Linked DNA regions of Homo sapiens. The protein of the gene in region 2 purifies or fractionates together with the protein of the main gene of each other region. This does not show direct contact. Each region holds a gene or a part of one and is shown on either strand. Other genes may lie near its edges. The genes, in order: MAP3K7, TRAF3IP2 and ELAVL1.

The links.
Region 1: the proteins of TRAF3IP2 (region 2) and MAP3K7 purify together in Homo sapiens (affinity purification with western blotting, with the first as the bait; one study listed by BioGRID). This does not show direct contact.
Region 3: the proteins of TRAF3IP2 (region 2) and ELAVL1 purify together in Homo sapiens (affinity purification with western blotting; one study listed by BioGRID). This does not show direct contact.

What each region holds. Positions count from the first base shown.
Region 1 is NC_000006.12:90,545,544-90,549,198, reverse strand, and holds part of MAP3K7 (mitogen-activated protein kinase kinase kinase 7), read left to right. Parts: intron 1-1,021; coding exon 1,022-1,152; intron 1,153-1,811; coding exon 1,812-1,941; intron 1,942-3,655. UniProt on the Homo sapiens protein: Serine/threonine kinase which acts as an essential component of the MAP kinase signal transduction pathway. Plays an important role in the cascades of cellular responses evoked by changes in the environment.
Region 2 is NC_000006.12:111,557,872-111,561,025, forward strand, and holds part of TRAF3IP2 (E3 ubiquitin ligase TRAF3IP2), read right to left. Parts: intron 1,681-3,154; coding exon 1,534-1,680; 3' UTR 1-1,533. UniProt on the Homo sapiens protein: E3 ubiquitin ligase that catalyzes 'Lys-63'-linked polyubiquitination of target protein, enhancing protein-protein interaction and cell signaling. Transfers ubiquitin from E2 ubiquitin-conjugating enzyme UBE2V1-UBE2N to substrate protein.
Region 3 is NC_000019.10:7,995,491-7,999,145, forward strand, and holds part of ELAVL1 (ELAV-like protein 1), read right to left. Parts: intron 1-3,655. UniProt on the Homo sapiens protein: RNA-binding protein that binds to the 3'-UTR region of mRNAs and increases their stability.

The DNA.
Region 1 (3,655 bases), about 21 Mb from region 2:
CTACTCTGCTTTCTTCTGTTACTCTGGCTAAACTATCCATACTTCTGGCCAAAGGTGTACCTTTCTGCCTGTGCATTATATCCCATCTGCTCCTCTGAGCAATTCTCCCCTGTCTCTTGCATCATCAGTTTTAGCTTTCTACTGGATCATTCCTAAAACATACGTAGTCTGTATTTGCATTCACTAGCTTCTCTTTTCCCCTTCTTTCTTGAGCTGACTCCATTCAGACGTATTATGCCAGTACTTCAGAATTGTTCTTGTCAAGGTCACTAGTTATCTCTACATCACTACATTTAAGGAATCATTTTCATTTCTCATCTTGACTCTCAGTAGCACTTGACCTAATTCATTACTTTCTCCTTCTTACAGACAGCACTTTCTTCAGTTGGCCTCCGAGATACCATACTAGCCTAGATTCCATCTTACATCTCTGGCCGTCTGTTCTCAGTTTTCTTTGCTGGTTATTCCTCATCTCCCCAACCTAGAAATGTTGGAGTGCCCAGGGCCTGCTCATTTGGCTTCTTCACTTATCTGTCTGCACTCATTTCCTTGGTAACCTCATTCATTATTATGGCCTTATATACCATCTGTTGGCTCATAATGTTTTCCATCTTATACCTGAACTCTATACTCATATATCCAACTATTTCCTTTACATCTACTAGAAACTCAAACTTAATATTTTCCAAACTGAGTTCCTGATACTTCCTTCAAACTCACTCTTCCTTTAGTCTTTCCGCATCTCAATTAATAGCCCTCAGTTCTTCTACTAGCTCAGGTTAAAAACCTTAAGTTATTCTTGACTATTAGAAGACTATTTAGGCATCTTGGTTCCTTTTTTGTGCTATCCTTAAGTTTCTCTTAAAATGGGTTTGTTTGGATATCTTCATTAGCTTGAAAAGTCTTATTTTATTTCTGTTCCTGCCTGGCTAGTTTATAAAAGAATGTAAGTTACATAATACCAAGTGAAGCATTTGTATTATTTCCAGCCATTAGTCATAAATGTTTCTGCTTTTCCTAGGCTCATTCATGGACATTGCTTCTACAAATACGAGTAACAAAAGTGACACTAATATGGAGCAAGTTCCTGCCACAAATGATACTATTAAGCGCTTAGAATCAAAATTGTTGAAAAATCAGGCAAAGCAACAGGTTTGTTATGTTATTACAAGTAAAACTGGTAACCTTACCAGTAGTCACAATATTATACTAACTGAAATTAATTATTTACCATCTTCTATTTTATAAATCCTGAATTTTCTTCCTGAAACATGCAAAAGAGCTTACAAATAGAGACACGTAATGAGATTCTCCTACCATTTATTACCAAATGGTTTTTCCTTCTAATGATTGCTACCTTTGCCAATTCTAAATCCCTATCTATAATAATCCCTAAATGTAATGGTTGATGGTTAAAAATGTAAAATGGGTATATTTTGGCTGCGCTGCCCAGTTAGAGGAGTTGTTCTAAGTCTATCATTTCATGCTGTTCAGATTTATTATATTTTTGCCATTGTTGATTTTTAAAAATATTTCAAGGAGTGAGTTTATTCATTTTGCCTGAGGCATTTAGGTTAACGAATAATTGGGGCTTTTAGCTCCCAGTTCTAGTGACTGCCTTTTCATAAAGACAGTATCTGCAGCTTGCTTTCCCTTACCCCTGTAGCTCCCTCTCGTACAAACTTCCCTCTCCTTTCAGAGCAGAACAGGATCTATCAGAATCCCATTTGCCATCTTCCTCCTTTTAGGTTGCCTAAGATTGCTAAATCTAAAGAACTTCAGTAATTCAGATTGACCTGTAATTTTAACAGAGTGAATCTGGACGTTTAAGCTTGGGAGCCTCCCGTGGGAGCAGTGTGGAGAGCTTGCCCCCAACCTCTGAGGGCAAGAGGATGAGTGCTGACATGTCTGAAATAGAAGCTAGGATCGCCGCAACCACAGGTAAAAAGGAACTACAAGTCTGAAGAGTGAAAATGTATATAAGCCTTTTTGGCCATGGTAGTTTCAGTTGTCAAAGGTTTTTTGTGTGTGTCTTATATTTTTTTTTAAATAGGAAGTAGGTTTACAATATATTTTTCTAAGTTACTAGCAATAGTTTATGCATTTATCTCAAATTCCAAATAAGGAAGGTATGACTTGTAAAATTATTTGGATGAGAAAGTATGCCTTCCTCATTTACAGATTTTATCAAATGTAATTCTTTCTGCTCAAACATGAGTTGAAAGTCTAAGTGAGAAATTGAAATTCTGCCAAAACCAGAATATTTTGGGGATTTTCAGTGATACTACTAGATTTTTGTGCTGAACTCAAATAATAGCAAATATTTTGTTTCAAATTTAACAGAAAAATGTATTCCAGATCCATGTATGATTTGACCTTCTATCTGCTTCTTCATTCCAGTGACAAAATAATAGCTAAGCTGGTTGTGGTTAATTTTTTTAATTGTAAAATAAAATATCATAATTTTATTAGATCTTGAAAAAGCTAGCATTTAAATTCCATTGTTCAGTTCTTAAAATTATTAATCATGGAAGAACTGGTCAGCACAAAAACAATTACATGTTTTGTTACTTAAGTAAACTGACAACCTAATTCTGTGACCAGGTTTCATTTTAGTAATGCTGGTTTAATTTGGACGTTTTTGGTTTTTTGCTGATTCTTTCCAGGGATCAGGGGGAGCTGATTTTAAAAGTAAACACGTTTCTGTTGTGGAAAATGTGGAAATGTAAACAAGCCAAAAAAACTTACATAATTACCCCACTCAGAGATAAACACTTAACATTTTTGTGTATTTACCCCATCTTTTAACTATGTATGTGTATAAATGTATATATTCATGTGTATTTGCATCTTTTTTAACTTAGCTAACCAATTTTTTAGGTCTTTTTTTCACTTATTTGGTTTTTTTCTAAATAGAATATTCTCATTGTGTGTGGAGCTCTTTTCAGAAAGAAGTTGTCAAGATGGACCATCATACTATACTTGTCTTCAACTAATCATGATCATTGATTTTATCAGCTACTATTAGAATCCATTAGATATAACAGAATATCCGAAATAACAGTGTCTATAACACATAAGCATTATTTTTCACATATAAACAAGTCTGGAGGTAGTGGGCTCTGTGATCTTGAAGTAACTGGTCTCCTATTTCTGTGCTGTAATCCCTACTGTATAGCTTCCATTCTCAAAGTTATCCTGTGCTCCAAAATGGCTGTTGAAGTTCCATTTCATCACTTCTACATTCCAGGCAATAGGAAGGAAGACATGGGGGCAGGGCAAATAGACATCCAAGTTCTTTGAAGGAACATTCCCAGATGCCTCTCTTAACAACATCCACACATCATTGGTCAAAGTAACATGGTCGAATGGCTACACGTAGCTCCAAGGGAAGAGGAGATCTGCCCTCTTTTATCTGATGACTTTTCTGTCCTAAATAAAATCAGAGTACTATTGCTAAAACAGAAGGGAAGAGTGGAAACTGGCAGAAGATAGCTGTGTCTGCCACAGATGGGTCTTCAGAAACTATCAAGTTGAGTAGAAGTCACCAGCCACTGACAAGCCCATGAGTCTCCATGAGTCACAAGTATTTCTTTGGAGCAGGGTTGTCTCACTGTAGTGTCAGATGAACCCTACTCACCGGGACATACCCTCA
Region 2 (3,154 bases):
TAGCTGGGCATGGTGGCAGGCGCCTATAGGTCTAGCTACTTGGGAGGTTGAGGCAGAAGAATCACTTGAACCCAGGAGGCGCAGGTTGCAGTGAGCCAAGATTGCAGCACTGCACTCCAGCCTGGACGACAGAGCGAGACTCTGTCTCAAACAAAAAAAAAGAAGAAGAAAATGTCTCTGTTAAGAAAATGTAAATTTGTCCTCTGAGAGACATAATTATGAAAATGAAAACTCAGTCACTCCTCAAAAGAGTATTTAGAATTTAGGTCCTAGACTTCAAATCTTTTAGAGTGATTAGAGATGCTTTTGTCCATGTCATTTTATAAATGAGTCCCTGGAATCTAAGAAAAGTTAAAGGACTTGCTAAAGGTCATACAGCTAATTGGTGGTAGAACCAAAATTAGAACACAGACTACAATTCTAGCCTACATCCCCCAACACTTCATACACATATGCAAATATTTTTACCTATGTAGTCAGATCCTGAGAACCATAATCATACTATTTAGAATCATGGCTGTATGCTATATAAAGTTGTTTTGTTAAAAATGGGTGTTTTTATTTGTTTGTTTGTTTTTTGAGACGGAGTCTCGCTCTGTCTCCCAAGCTAGAGTGCAGTGACATGATCTCGGCTCACTGCAACCTCTGCCTCCCGGGTTCAAGTGATTCTCCTGCCTCAGCCTCCCGAGTAGCTGGGATTACAGGTGCACACCACCATGCCCGGCTAACTTTTTTGTAATTTTAGCAGAGATGGGGTTTCACCATGTTGGCCAGGCTGGTCTCAAACTCCTGACCTCAAATGATCTGCCTGCCTTAGCTTCCCAAAGTGCTGGGATTACAGGTGTGAGTCACTGCGCCCAGCCTAAAAATCTTTATTGCAAGAATAAAGCTTCCATGATTATGGTTAAAAAGGGTTGTTTAACTAGCTGGCTTTAATCCATTAATACAGAGTGGTCTGTTATATTTATCTAATATTATATCTAAGCAGCTTTGTTGATGTCCCTGGAAGCAACTGCCCATATCATTATAAATTATATGTATCTCCTTTGAGATAAGTAAAACATAATCTTACAAAAGAGTAAACATTTTATTATTTGTACATGAATCAGTTTGGTCTGAGGATACACAAGCATCTGGCTAACTCATAAAAGTAGCCTGAAGTGATTGATAGGAGAGTGTTTGTAGTCATTTCCATTTGCTGCCACATCCCTTACATTATCTACTTGCTAAGCACTGAGAGGCCCAGAATGGACACATCAAACTGTCAGGAGGAACATATGGGACACTGGCACCTGCAATGGTTTTTTTAAAAGCAGAGAATGCAGAGCAGTCACAGACTCCACTTCAAAGCCAGGGTGTGTGGAGGTCTCCGGGGAAGAGCTCTGCACAACAGGTTTCCTGGGGGCCAGAGGGCCTCTCGGGGAGGAACAGAAAAAAACCAGCCAGGAGTGCTACCGACCAGCCTCAGCCAGAATGCTGTCAGAACAAGGCCCCAAACATGGCCTGGCCTCAGTGATCTGGGGATGAACGGTGTCACAAGGGAACCACCTGAAGGGTGGGCAGAGGCCCCCGTGGAGGAGCCACATACTCTTCCTCTCTCAGCAGCCGCAGCAGGATGTTTTTTTTATTCTTGGGCCAGCTGTAGACATGAGTGTTCTGAAGCCAGGTGGGCACATGCTCCTATGGGAGGCAGAATGACAGGAGCAAAGGTCATTAGAGAAAAACCTGGATGCCAGATCCCAGGCTCAGTTCCCAAACATTTCTGGCTTTCCCTACATGGGCGTTTCCTACCAAACTATCCTGGGAGTTGTGCTGTTTTGCTTTTGGAAAGGTTTAGCATGTGAAATGTTCTTGGCTTCGGGTACAAGCTGTATATCTCATTATAAAAACCACATGTGCACAGCATTTTCTGTCAGTCTCCCAGACTACCTACCCTTTGCATTTCAACTTGCTTTTCACCACCCTCACATAAAAGGGGTAGGACAGAGGTCACACAGAGTGATGTGAATTCCCCTGTGACTTCAGAAGAAGTATGCCAGGGCCGTAGGCTTAAATCAATTCATTACTCTTTCACTCCAGCCCCAGGTCTGGCCTGCAGTAGAAGGAGCCCATCAGACCTCAGTGATCAGGCAGAGGCAGAAACTGTTAGCCAGGGATCCTGGGGGTGCAGTGTCAGACTGCCCTCATGGAGTGGATGTTCTGGTGGGGAGAGGCAGATAATAAGTAAATGGATAGTGTGTTCAACAGTGATGTATGCTGTGGAGAAGAATTAAACAAGAAAGGGGACAGGGAGTGCTGGGGCAAGGGTGAAAGATTTGCAGTTTTAAACGGGGTGCTTAGGAGAGGTCTCACTGAGAAAATGAGCAAAGACCTAAAAGAGTGGAAGAAGCAAGCTCTGTGGTTGTCTGGGTCCAGGCAGATAGGAGAGTCAGTGCGAAGGCCCTGTGGAGGGAGTGTGTTGGGTCTGTTCACAAGCAACAAGGCCACTGTGAGTAGAGCAGAGTGAGTAGGTGCAGAGGTCTGGAAGTAGAAGGGGCTGTATCGGATAGTGCCCTGTAGGCCACCATAAGGCCTTTGCTTTTGAGTCTAACTCCTAGGGACTATAGGACGGGACTTCTCTAGGTATTGTGCTTAGAAGCAGCACCTGCTGCATGGCAGGCATCATACTGAGTACTGAGGATGCCCAAATGAAAAGGACGCAGGGACTGCCTTGAGGACTTCAAATCTTAGGATGAAAGCAAAATGTCAACAAATGATTTTCTAGTCAATGGTGTACCAAGGGGACAGGTGGTGAGAGCGGCCTGTGCTGGGCTCAGGTAATACGGGCATTGTCTGAAGGAGATTTAAAAATAATAACAAAACCAATGAAAATTTGGTCTATTTTGTATATCGCCATGCTCCAATAATTCTCAACAATTATTCCCAGTACCCTCAACCCAAACACATACCATTGACCCAAGGTGCTAGAATTAAGCACCCTTAAGAAAGGGACAATGAAATATATCAGCATGAAGGTAAAGAGGTGTCAGGGCAGGGCGCAGTGGCTCACGCCTGTAATCCCAGCACTGGGGAGGCTGAGGAGAGTGGATTACCTGAGGTCAGGAGTTCAAGACCAGCCTGGCCAACATGGTGAAACCCTGTCTCTACTAAACAT
Region 3 (3,655 bases), on a different chromosome or scaffold from region 2:
AAATCTGGCCCATTGCCTGTTGTTATAAATAAAGTTTTATTGGAATACAGCTTGTCTCATTTGTTTATGTATTGTCTGTCTATAGATAGTTTTGTACTACAATAACACAGTTAAGTAGTAGCAACCGTATGGCCAAAAAAGCTGAGAATATTTACCATCTGGCTCTTCACACAAAAAAAATCTGCCGACCTCTGTTTTAAAATGTAAAAACATAAAATTTCTTGGAGAAAAATCTTTGTGGCATTGGGCTGGGGAAAGATTTCTCAGACACAACACCAAAAGCCCACTTCGTTAAAAAAAAAAAAAAATGGATAAACTGGATATCATCAAAATTTGAAACTTTTGCTCTGTGAAAGATACTGCTAGGAGAATTAAAATCCACCAACTGGAGTAAACATTTGCAAAAGGGACTTGTAGTCAGAACACTTTTTTTTTTTTTTGAGTCAAAGTCTCACTCCACTGCCCAGGCTGAAGTGCAATGCCATAATCATAGCTCACTGCAGCCACAAACTCTTGGGTTCAAGCAATCCTCCTGCCTCAGCCTTCTGGCTAATTTTTTATTTTTTGTCGAGATAGGGTCTCACTATGTTGCCCACGCTGGTCTTGAATTCCTGGTGTCAAGTGATCCTCCCATCTTGGCCTCTCAAAGTATTAGAATTATAGGCGTAAGCCACCTCACCCAACCCAGAACCCTTTTTTTTTTTTTTTTGAAATGGAGTCTTGCTCTGTCACCCAGGCTGGAGTGCAGTGGCATGATCTCCGCTCACTGCAAGCTCCACCTCCCGGGTTCATGCCATTCTCCTGCCTCAGCCTCCCAAGTAGCTGGGACTACAGGCGCCCGCCACCATGCCCAGCTAATTTTTTGTATTTTTAGTAGAGACGGGGTTTCACCGTGTTAGCCAGGATGGTCTCCATCTCCTGACCTCGTGATCTGCCCATCTGCCCACCTCGGCCTCCCAAAGTGCTGGGATTACAGGCGTGAGCCACCACGCCTGGCCCAGAACACTTTTTTTTAAGCTCTCAAAACAGAAGCAGGCTAGTGTGCTGGCTCATGCCTGGAATTCCAGCACTTTGGGAGGCCGAGGTGGGTGGATCACCTGAGGTCAGGAGTTTGAGACCAGTCCGGCCAACATGGTGAAACCCCATCTCTACAAAAATACAACAAAAAAAAAATTAGCAAGGCGTGGTGGTGGGCATCTGTAATCTCAGTTACTGGGGAGGCTGAGGCAGGAGAATCGCTTGAACCTGGGAGGCAGAGGTTGCAATGAGCCGAGATGGCGCCACTGTACTCCAAACTGGGCGATAGGGCCAGACTCCATCTCCAAAAACCAAAAACAACATAATGAGCAAACAACCTGGTTTCAAAAATGGCAAAAGATTTGAACAGATACTATACCAAAGAATATATATGGATGGCAGACAGGCACATGAAAAGATGCTCAACATCATTAGTCAAATTAAAACCACATCGAGACACCGCTACCCACTTATTAGAATGGCTAAAGCAAAATAAAACAAAAAACAACCAACAGCAACAAAACAGACAATGTCAAGTGCTGGCAGGGATGTGGAGAAGCCAGAATATTCATGCACTGCTGGTGGGAATGCAAAAATGTGAAATGTGACAGCCACTTTGGAAAACAGATTGGCAGTTTCTTATGGTGAAATATACACTTAGCATGGGATCCAGCAATCCTACTCCTAGTATTAAGGCAATAGAAAGGAAAATCTATATTCACACAAAAATCTGTATATAAATGTGCAGAGCGGCATTATTCATAATCATCCAAAACTACAACAACCCAAATATTCTTCAAGCCATTCATGGATAAACTGGGATACACCATACAACAGAATACCACCTGGCAATAAAAGGTATCACCAATTCATGCTACTTGTGTGAATCTCAAACACATCTTGCCACATCATTTCTGTGCCTTCCTGGAAAAGGCAAAACCATAGGGATGGATCTGTGGTCGCTGGGGTTAGGGAGTGAGGGGAAAAGTCGATTACACAGGGACAGGAGGAGGGAGTATTTCTGTTTGTGGGAGAGCGAACTTTCCAATCTTTATTATGGTGGTAATCAAACAACTTTATCCGTTTGTCAAAACTCAGAGAACTCTACTCGAAAAAATGAATTTTCCTACATGCAAATTTAAAAATAAATTGTCTGAGTGTGGCGACTCATGCCTTTAATCCCAGCGCTTTCAGAGGCCAAGGTGGGAGGACTGCTTAAGCCTGGAGTTCAAGACCAGCCTGGGCAGCACAGAGAGATGCCATCATTACAAAAAAAAAAAAAATTAAAAATTACCCAGGAATGGTGATGCACACCTGTATGCAATCCCAGCTAATCGGGGGGCTCAGCTGGGAGGATCACTAGAGCCTGGGAGGTCAATACTGCAGTTAGCTATGATTGTGCCACTGCAGTCCAGCGTGGGCGACAGAGTGAGATCCTGCCTCAAAAACAACAACAAAACCACAATAAAAATAAATTTTAAAAGGTTTAAAAAGAGAACTTCTGCTTTGCGGCCCTGTTCCTCCTGACACTCTGAGTCAAGGCTGAGCAGCCCCTGCAGGTCAAGTTCTTGGTCAACTAGTAACACGGGAGAAACCAACAACCTGCCCTGCAAAGCAGTTTCATGACGTTTCTGGGCCCCCACCCCACTCTCTGGAGGCCCTTCCCTTGACCTTCTCCAAATCTGCATCATCAATCCTGGGCCAAATCAGCTTCTATCCCACAAGCTCCAACCACAACTGGGCCTTGTCACCACTCAATTATCACTGACTCCCAAGTCGTAGCCACTTCTGTCTCTCGAGGTGCAAGGCCTGCACTGTCCTGCAATCAAGATGCTCACCCCTCTGGTATTCCCTGTCAGTGGTCACCACCCATTGAGGCTCGGCGGTCACACGATGATGCTCACGGTCAGGCATGCCATTAATAAGTGGCAGGGCCAGGCCTCAAGTTGTCATGACAATGCAACTGTCAAACTGGCAAGGCCCTTCACAATCGGACCCAGGTGGTTCTCCAGCCTCAGTCGCCACCCTCCCTTCCCGCTCACTCCAGCTTCTTGCCAATATGCTACAGGCCTCTGCTTTGGCTGTTCCCTCTGCAGGGCACTAGTGTCCTCTCCTTCACTTCCCAGCTCATTTTTTAAAATTAGTATTTTTTTTTAAAGAGATGGGGGTCTCTCTTTGTTGCCCAGGCTGGTCTTGAACTCCCAAGCTCAAGTGATCCTCCTACTTTGGCCTCCCAAAGTGCTGGAATTGCAGGTGTGAGCCACCATGCCTGGCCTCCCAGCTCACTTCTATTTTTACTTATTTTTCTTTTGAGAAAGGGTCTTGCTCTGCTGCCAAACTAGAGTGCAGTGGCATAATCACGGCTCACTGCAGCCTCAAACTGCCTCAGTTTCCCAAGTAGCTGGGACTACTGGTGTGTGCCACCATACCTGGCTGATTTTTAAATTTTTTTAGAGACAGGGGTCTCATTTTGTTGCCCATGCTGGCTTCAAGTCATCCTCCCACCTGGGCCTCCCAAAGTGCTGGGATTATAGGTGAGAGCCACTACACCAGGCTGGCTCATCTTTAAAAAGCTACCTTCCTGGCCTGGCGTGGTGGCTTATGCCTGTAATCCCAGCAATGTGGGAGGCCGAGGTAG